Homo sapiens: one gene and its partner. The protein of the gene in region 2 interacts with the protein of the main gene of each other region in a pairwise test. Each region holds a gene or a part of one and is shown on either strand. Other genes may lie near its edges.

The links. The genes of interacting proteins can lie anywhere in the genome.
Region 1: the proteins of EYA2 (region 2) and PAX9 interact in binary tests that used the Homo sapiens proteins (3 or more experiments, as listed by UniProt).

What each region holds. Positions count from the first base shown.
Region 1 is NC_000014.9:36,664,744-36,668,493, reverse strand, and holds part of PAX9 (paired box protein Pax-9), read right to left. Parts: intron 2,033-3,750; coding exon 1,893-2,032; intron 1-1,892. UniProt on the Homo sapiens protein: Transcription factor required for normal development of thymus, parathyroid glands, ultimobranchial bodies, teeth, skeletal elements of skull and larynx as well as distal limbs.
Region 2 is NC_000020.11:47,184,797-47,188,546, reverse strand, and holds part of EYA2 (protein phosphatase EYA2), read right to left. Parts: intron 495-3,750; coding exon 414-494; 3' UTR 1-413. UniProt on the Homo sapiens protein: Functions both as protein phosphatase and as transcriptional coactivator for SIX1, and probably also for SIX2, SIX4 and SIX5.

The DNA.
Region 1 (3,750 bases), on a different chromosome or scaffold from region 2:
CCGCTTGAACCCGGGAGGCAGAGGCTGCAATAAGTAGAGATCGCGCCACTGCACTCCAACCTGGCGACAGAGCTAGACTCCGTCTCAAAATAAATAAATAAATAATAAGTATAAAGGGTTTTTTTTGGGATTATGACTGCTTGATATATAAACTGGGTTCATCAATGACATGTGGGAATTAGAAACTTTTTCAACTCTATACTTCACAATGTTATTCCAATCAATGATGACCTAATAAAAAGCACTGAGCGCCTATTAAATGCTTGCTTCTATGGTAGGTGCTTTATATACACTCTTTCTATTGTTTGTAACAAAATCTCTTGAAGCTTTTTGACTATGGTCTCTCAGAACAAAGTATACTCTGATAAATATTACTTACTTTTACACGTGTCTTTTTAACTGCCACTTAGAACCACAGACAATACTTAATAAATGCTTACTATGTGCCATATGGTTGCATTATCTCATTGAATACTCATAACATCTCTGGGTTGGGAATATCATTTCCCTGTTTTAAAGATGAAGAAATAGAGACTAAAAATTAAATATTTTCCTAAGAAGTCGTACAGCCAGAGATCGGAGCTCCTAACCATTGTACTATTCTGCCTTTTCTTTGCAAATTACGAATTAAGGGTGGGTCGTTTAGTAAAAGAAAATGACAAACTTCCTTATCATTTCTCATTGACATTCTTCACAGTAGAAACAGACTAAGGAAAAGGGCTCTCTTTCCTTGCTATTTTCTGTGTTATTTGCCATTGGAGAGCCACTAATATGTATTCTGATTCTATTTCAACAAAATAAGAGAGGGAAGAGGAAGTGGAAATGGGATTTGTTACAGAAAATAATGACTAAGATGTTTTTTCAAGTGAATAAGAGGAACAAATTCCACTTAATTTTAAAAGCTGATTTTGACAGACAAAAAAGCATTAAAAATTTTAAGTCTTCAAAATAATAAAAGGAAAACTGAATAGCTTGAGGCTTTGGAATTGAGTTTGGGATTAAGAGATTTGCAAACCTACTGGGGTCTGCTGGGGAAACCTTACATTGCCTTAAGGTCCGGTTTTTTGAGAGTTTTGAACTCTTGACTCCAGGACGGTGATGAATTTAGACTTAAATCTGGGGCTTTTGTTGTGGTGGTTGTTTAGCTTTTCTCGGGGGGAAAATAAAAACACGAGTGTTTTAAATTTTCCTTTGGAGACATGAGGGAGGGACGGAGGGAAAGAAAAATTAAACGGTCCACAGCCAGTCCGTATAATTTGAGGTTTTCTCACTAACTTCCTTGGGAGATTACAATGTGACCTTTAGTCGAGAAAATGGTAGCTTTGTTACGTTTATCTGGGTGCCCCTCTCCGCAGGATTGGCCAAGCGTGTTTGTCCGAGAGCCACCGGAGAGAAAGTCCGAACGTGAGGACCCCGCAGCCGCAGTCGCACCGTGGGGCCGAGACCCGGGGCGCGCGTTTCGCGGGCGTGAAGGCGCGGCTCTGAGGCCCCAGGGCTGCTCCGCTCGGCCCTTCAGAAGCGCCTTCTTTGGTTAACTCTACCCCCAACGAGAGCCGCCGAAAGGGCTTCGGGAGCCGCCTCCCCAAGCTCCCGGAGGCCGACAGGCCTGGAGGCGCTTCCCAGAGCCTCGCCCCGGGGAGCTGCCGCCCCAGACCCCCAGCGCCCTGACGAGCGCTCCCGGCCCCTGGCGGGGGTCGAGGCCCCAGCTCCGCCTTCCAAGGCTCAGGCCTCTGCTTCGCCCCAGTCCACGAAGGATCTGGCTCGTAGCAGCAAAGGGACGCCAGCCTGGGCTTCTCTCGCGGGAAGCTCAGAAAGGGACCCATCACAAAGTGTTCCATCGCCTAAATCCCCGCCGCCACGCGGCCCACCTGGCCTGACCCTCGCCTCCTCACCTGACCGTACTTGGCTTCCTGCTCCAGGGCTCCCTTCTCCAACCCGTTCACCGCGTGCGGGGCGGCGGCGGGGAAGTTGTTGCGGCCCAGGCTGCTCCACTCCTCCACCTTGGGGCTGTGGTAGGGGGAGCTGTCGCTCACTGATGGAGAGAAGAGAGGGTGTCAGGCCGGAGGCCCAGCCCGCGCGCCCCACTCTTGAGACGGGACCCAAACCCGCGACGGAGAGCTGGAGGGCTTAGACCTTGGGTCGGCTCCCTGCCCTTGGCCTCCCGAGGGCGCTGGGCCCAGCCGCGACCTCCTGTGCTTCCAGCCCAGGGCCTGGTGAAGTTTTACTCCCCTCAGAGTAGGCCTTTCCAAATTCTCTGACCCACGCCTGAGGGAAGACACTTTTTTCTTTTTCAACCGGTTTTTGATTTCCCTTCGCCCCTTTGCTCTCCCAGGGCAAAGGAGTGGAAGAAACCTAAATCGGAGAAGGAACCCTTAAGGCTGCACGTGCCGTTCTCCACCTCCTCATTCTTAACCCAAGGCCGACTGGGGGTTGACAACAATTTGGCAGTGGGGCTGGCTGAAAAGAAAGAGAGGAGCGTCTGACCTAAGGGTGCCTGCACTGGTGCTCACTGCACTGTGGGGATCTGGTACTTATGTCAATAGAGAACAAAAAGACCTGCACTGTCCTTTGCAAACAAATAACTAAATTATTCCCACGATACAGTGCAAAATATACATGCACAGATTTCTGCTTTGTGTGTGCATAGGGCTCCCCTTGATACACTACCTCTACACATTACATATGTGATATGTGCATATGACTTAAAAATAAATCTTGCAATTACCACTATACATGCCATGGGTGTTAGTGGCAGGGTTTTCCTGAAAGAGTTTAAAAAATGTATATACAAGAAAGAGAAAATGAAATAGGTTAAGAAAATGAAAGTAAAATTAAGTGTTAAGGTGTAATGCCATCAGTTATTCTTTCTGTTCTTGGTGGAGATGCAAAGAAAATTGTATGGTGTAAAGTAATTACTATAATACCTGGGGTTGAGAATATTGAATTATTGGCATTTTTCAGTGACCAGGTATAGTTTCAAAGAGATATGTGAAGGCTACAAACAATGTATGTTTGTCTTTGGGTCCTATGGGTGGAGGAGTGGTTTGGCAAAGCCATTGTAACTTGATTTTAAACACTTCCATCTAACACAGTGCTTTAAAAGAGTGAGCATTTTTGTAGAAATGATCATTTTTATAATCACAAATGTGTCACAAACTGGGTTGTTTAAAGCTGGCATCCAAAATCACAATAATATCTGAAAGGAAAAGTTGCTCCTTTCCATTCTCCAATACTTTCCCAACTGACATTTGCTCTGATGGTAGGATCCCTAGGCAGGAAAAGTTTTCTTTTAAACTCTGTCAGCCTTTTTTTTTTTTTTTTTTTTTCACTATGTCTCCTCCTCTACCACCCCCAAGAATTAGATTGAGTCCCATTTGCACCAGGAAACTGTGTTTTGGTCCAGAACTGCCTGTCTGTCTTTGCCTTCCCAGACAAAAGGCAGTCGGTGGGCACAAGCTTGAAGTTATCTTAAGAAATTGAGATCCCCCTGTGAGCCCCCATTTCTGCTGATCTCACACTTTCCCATGAACAGGGGCTTCCTTTAAATGTCAGTGAGGTCAGTTTATCCTATAAATCAAGGGCAAACTCTCTCCAACTATGGCTCCAAGTAGCTCCAAATAAGACAAAACTGGGCTCTTGTAAACTTGCAGTCAGAAAACAAGAAGATGAGAAATCAGAGCCCTGCTTTAATTACTTAAAAAGATAATTGTGCCAATGTGGTGGCAACCAAGAAAGGCAGGAAGTAATTAA
Region 2 (3,750 bases):
CCAACGACTAAGAAACCCAGCCACACAGGTACAAGAGCATAATTCCGGAGTAATGAGACTAGTCCATAAATTAAAAAGAAGACAAGACAAACCCATCCCCTCCTCATCACCAGGCACCCCCCAAATCAGCAATTCCTTGCTTTTGTTCTGTGAGTCTTACAGAAGAGTCTAGACTCCGAGCCAGCCCTTTTCCCCAAAGTCAAATACTCCGAAGCCAATGTTGGGTACTTTCCTTCTCAGAACCCCCATTTGGACTGATGGACGGCTTCTGAGATGGTCACTGGACACGTCGTCTCGGCTGTGGGGCCCCTTCCTGGTGTCCAACATCTGGGTCTCTGGAGTTCTCGGTGGGGAGGTGGGGAAGGCGAGGGGGTCTGAGGGTGAGATGGCAGGTGGAGATGCTGCTGATCCTGCTATAAATACTCCAGCTCCAGGGCGTGCCTCAGTGCCTCCAGGTCTGCGTGGCAGGATATCCGCCAGAAAGGCATGTTGTGCTGAAACACAGAACACCAGCCACAAGGTTATGGCCCCGCCCCTGCCCCCGGGTTCCACGCCTGTGGTTAGAGGGCATGTGAGAAGTCAACCCAGTTAAGTCTAGCACGTGGGGACTTCCCAAACTATGGGGCACTTGATGTTGCTGGCAGACCCACATCTGGCCAGTACCCACCAGTATGGCCAACCATTTCTATTCAGAGCCTGCTCTGACGGGCTTATCCAGCACTGCCCAGCGTGTTCGCTGTTTGACCCTCTCGCCTCTGTTGGTACCAGCGTGGTCTTAGGCGGTGCACTGACATGGTGTTAAATTGCACAATGGGAAAGCGATTCCTTTTTAAAAATTTGTTCTTGCCTGGGCACTGTGGCCCACGTTTGTAATCCCAGCACTTTGGGAGGCTGAGGCGGGAGGATTGCTTGAGGCCGGGAATTGGAGGCTGCAGTGCTCTGAATCCTGTTACTTCAAGAAGAAAGTCACAGCTCGGTGCTGGAACCCCTCCCCAGCATTGACAGTCTCCACTGTGAACAAACAGAGCTGGTCTTGGAGAGTCTTCAGCAGGCCACTGTAGCTAGCCAGGTCAGATGACACTAATCTGTTTTCTTTATAGCTTTCGTTTTTATCTTTTCCTTTTCTTTGCAGCAGGTGGTACCTGCTTCAAGTTATTGTCATGATGTGGAGTTTTTTTTTTCTTTCTTTCTTTCTTTTGAGACAGGCTAGAGTGCAGTGACATGATCTCTGCTCACTGCAGCCTCAACCTCCCAGGCTCAAGCGATCCTCCTACCTTAGCCTCCCGGGTAGCTGGGACAACAGATGCATGCCACCACATCTGGCTAATTTTTGTATTTTTTGTAGAGATAGGGTTTCACCATGGTGACCAGGCTGGTCTCAAACTACTGGGCTCAAGCGATCCACCCACCTCAGCCTCCCAAAGTGTTGGGATTACAGGCATGAGCCATTGTGCCCAGCTGAATTTCGTTTCATTAATTTTTTTTTTTAATTTTAGAGATGGAGTCTCAGTTTGTTGTCCATGCTGGAATGCAGATCATGGCTCACTGCAGCCTTGATCTCTTGGGCTCAACTGATTTTCCTGACTCAGCCTCCTGAGTAGCTAGGGACATATCTAGGTAAATAGGAAAAAGGAAGGATGCAGGACAAATTGTATATATATGTGCATGTATATGGAAGAAAGAATGCTGGCGTTTCTCAGTAGTTTAAAAGATAATAAATAAGACTACCTTAGGAAGAATGTAAAGAAATCATTAAGGCAGGTGTAAATAAAATGTCATGGGAGCCAGCCAGAGGAAGCAGCCTCTTTTTTGGTAGAAGTGAATGGGATGGGGGTGTCTCAGGGGACAAGAAGCGCATGAGACCCAGACCTTGAAGAACGAATGAGGAGGCCGGGCGTGGTGGCTCACGCCTGTAATCCTAGGACTTTGGGAGGCCAAGGCGGGTGGACTACCTGAAATCAGGAATTTGAGACCAGCCTGGCCAACATGGTGAAACCCCATCTCTACTAAAATACAAGAATCAGCTGGGCGTGGTGGTGGCCACCTGTAATCCCAGCTACTTGGGAGGCTGGGGCAGGAGAATCACTTGAACACAGGAGGCAGAGGATGCAGTGAGTTGAGATCATGCCACTGCACTCCAACCTGGGCAACAAGAGTGAAACTTCATCTCAAAAAAAAAAAAAAAAAAAAAAAAAAAAGAATAAGTGCTTCATAGTTAGCAGGTCACTGAAGGGAAGGGCATCCCAGATTGAGAATCCCTCAGTGAGCAAAGGAAGATCTATAAAGATGCCAGGGGCAGACCCCAGTGGGGCCTTCTGTACAGGTCACAAACACTTATGGGGCTTTCATTGGAGGCTCAGATAAACCCACAGATAAGAAATAAACAAGATAAGTTCATCTCCTGGTAAGTGCTAGGAAGGAAACAGAATGAGATAGGGTAGAAAGCAGCTTTGTGTGTCTACTTTTGAGAGCTGGGTCAGGAAAGGCCTCTCCAGGGAGTGTCATTTAAGCAGGCCCTGGCAAAGATGTGGGGGAACGTGGGGGCAGGTAGAAGACACAGCAAGTGCAAAGGCCCCAGGAAGGTTGAGCTTGGAATGCAATGCTCATTGCTGCACCGCATGGCTCTTGACACATAGTAGGTGCTCAAGAAATATTCGTAGAAGGAATGAAAAGAGGAAGAGAGAGAGGGAAAAAAAGAAGGTAAGTTTCTCAAGCAAAGTCCTCTGAATGTATCCTTTTCTCTTTGTTCTGTAGTTTCTAAACAATTCTCAGCTCAAGGGAAGCAGAAAACCATCTCCTATGGGAACAGCTCTCATCTCTTCAACGCCTTCTCACTGCCCTAGCATTCCCACCCTGCCCTCATCCCGGCCAAGCCCTCCTTTCTTTGCAAAGATAGATTCTGGTTGCCACCTGGCCAATCCTGCCCTCTTTAAAGAGTGTAATTTGGCTGAGTGTGGTGGCTCACACCTCTAATCCCAGTACTTTGGGAGGCTGAGGTGGTCGGATCACCTGAGGTCAGGAGTTCGAGACCAGCCTGGCCAACATGGCAAAACCCCGTCTCTATTAAAATTACAAAAAATTAGCCACATGTGGTGGCTCATGCCTGTAATCCCAGCTACTCAGGAGGCTGAGGCACAAGAATCGCTTGAACCTGGGAGGTGGAGGTTGCAGTGAGCCGAGATCATGCTACTGCACTCCAGCCTGGGCGACACAGTGAGATTCTGTCTCAAAAAAAAAAAAAAAAAAAAAAAAAAAAAAAAAAAAAAAAAAGAGTGTGATTCATTTTTCTGGGAGAGAATGAGCAAAGGTGGAAGAAAGAGAATGTTCTAGCCGCCTTTACCCCAGGCTTAAAGGTTCCAGAGTGCCAGTGGATTCATCACTCGTGAAGAGGTGGAGACAAATCACCCACTAAAATGGAGATATTAACAACACTGTCAGCGGAAACAGTCAAGGCCCCTGGTCCTGCGGCCATATTTTACACCGCTCAGATTTCCGGTGGCCTGGGCTAATGACTTCCATTTGTCAGGCTGAGAGAGCTGCTGGTGGACACTGTTTCTCACTAACGTTCTGAGGCTTCTGCCTCAGACACTGGGACTTTTATGGGAGTTCTGTGTGTGGTGGGTGTGTACCTAGTCTTCTTTGGCTGACTCTACTCTTGCCTGACTAGCTCAGGGGTGAAAACCAACCGTGTTTGAAACTCGTAAGTCCGTCTCCTCCCTGCCAGGCGTTTGGAGCATGACACAGGTAGGT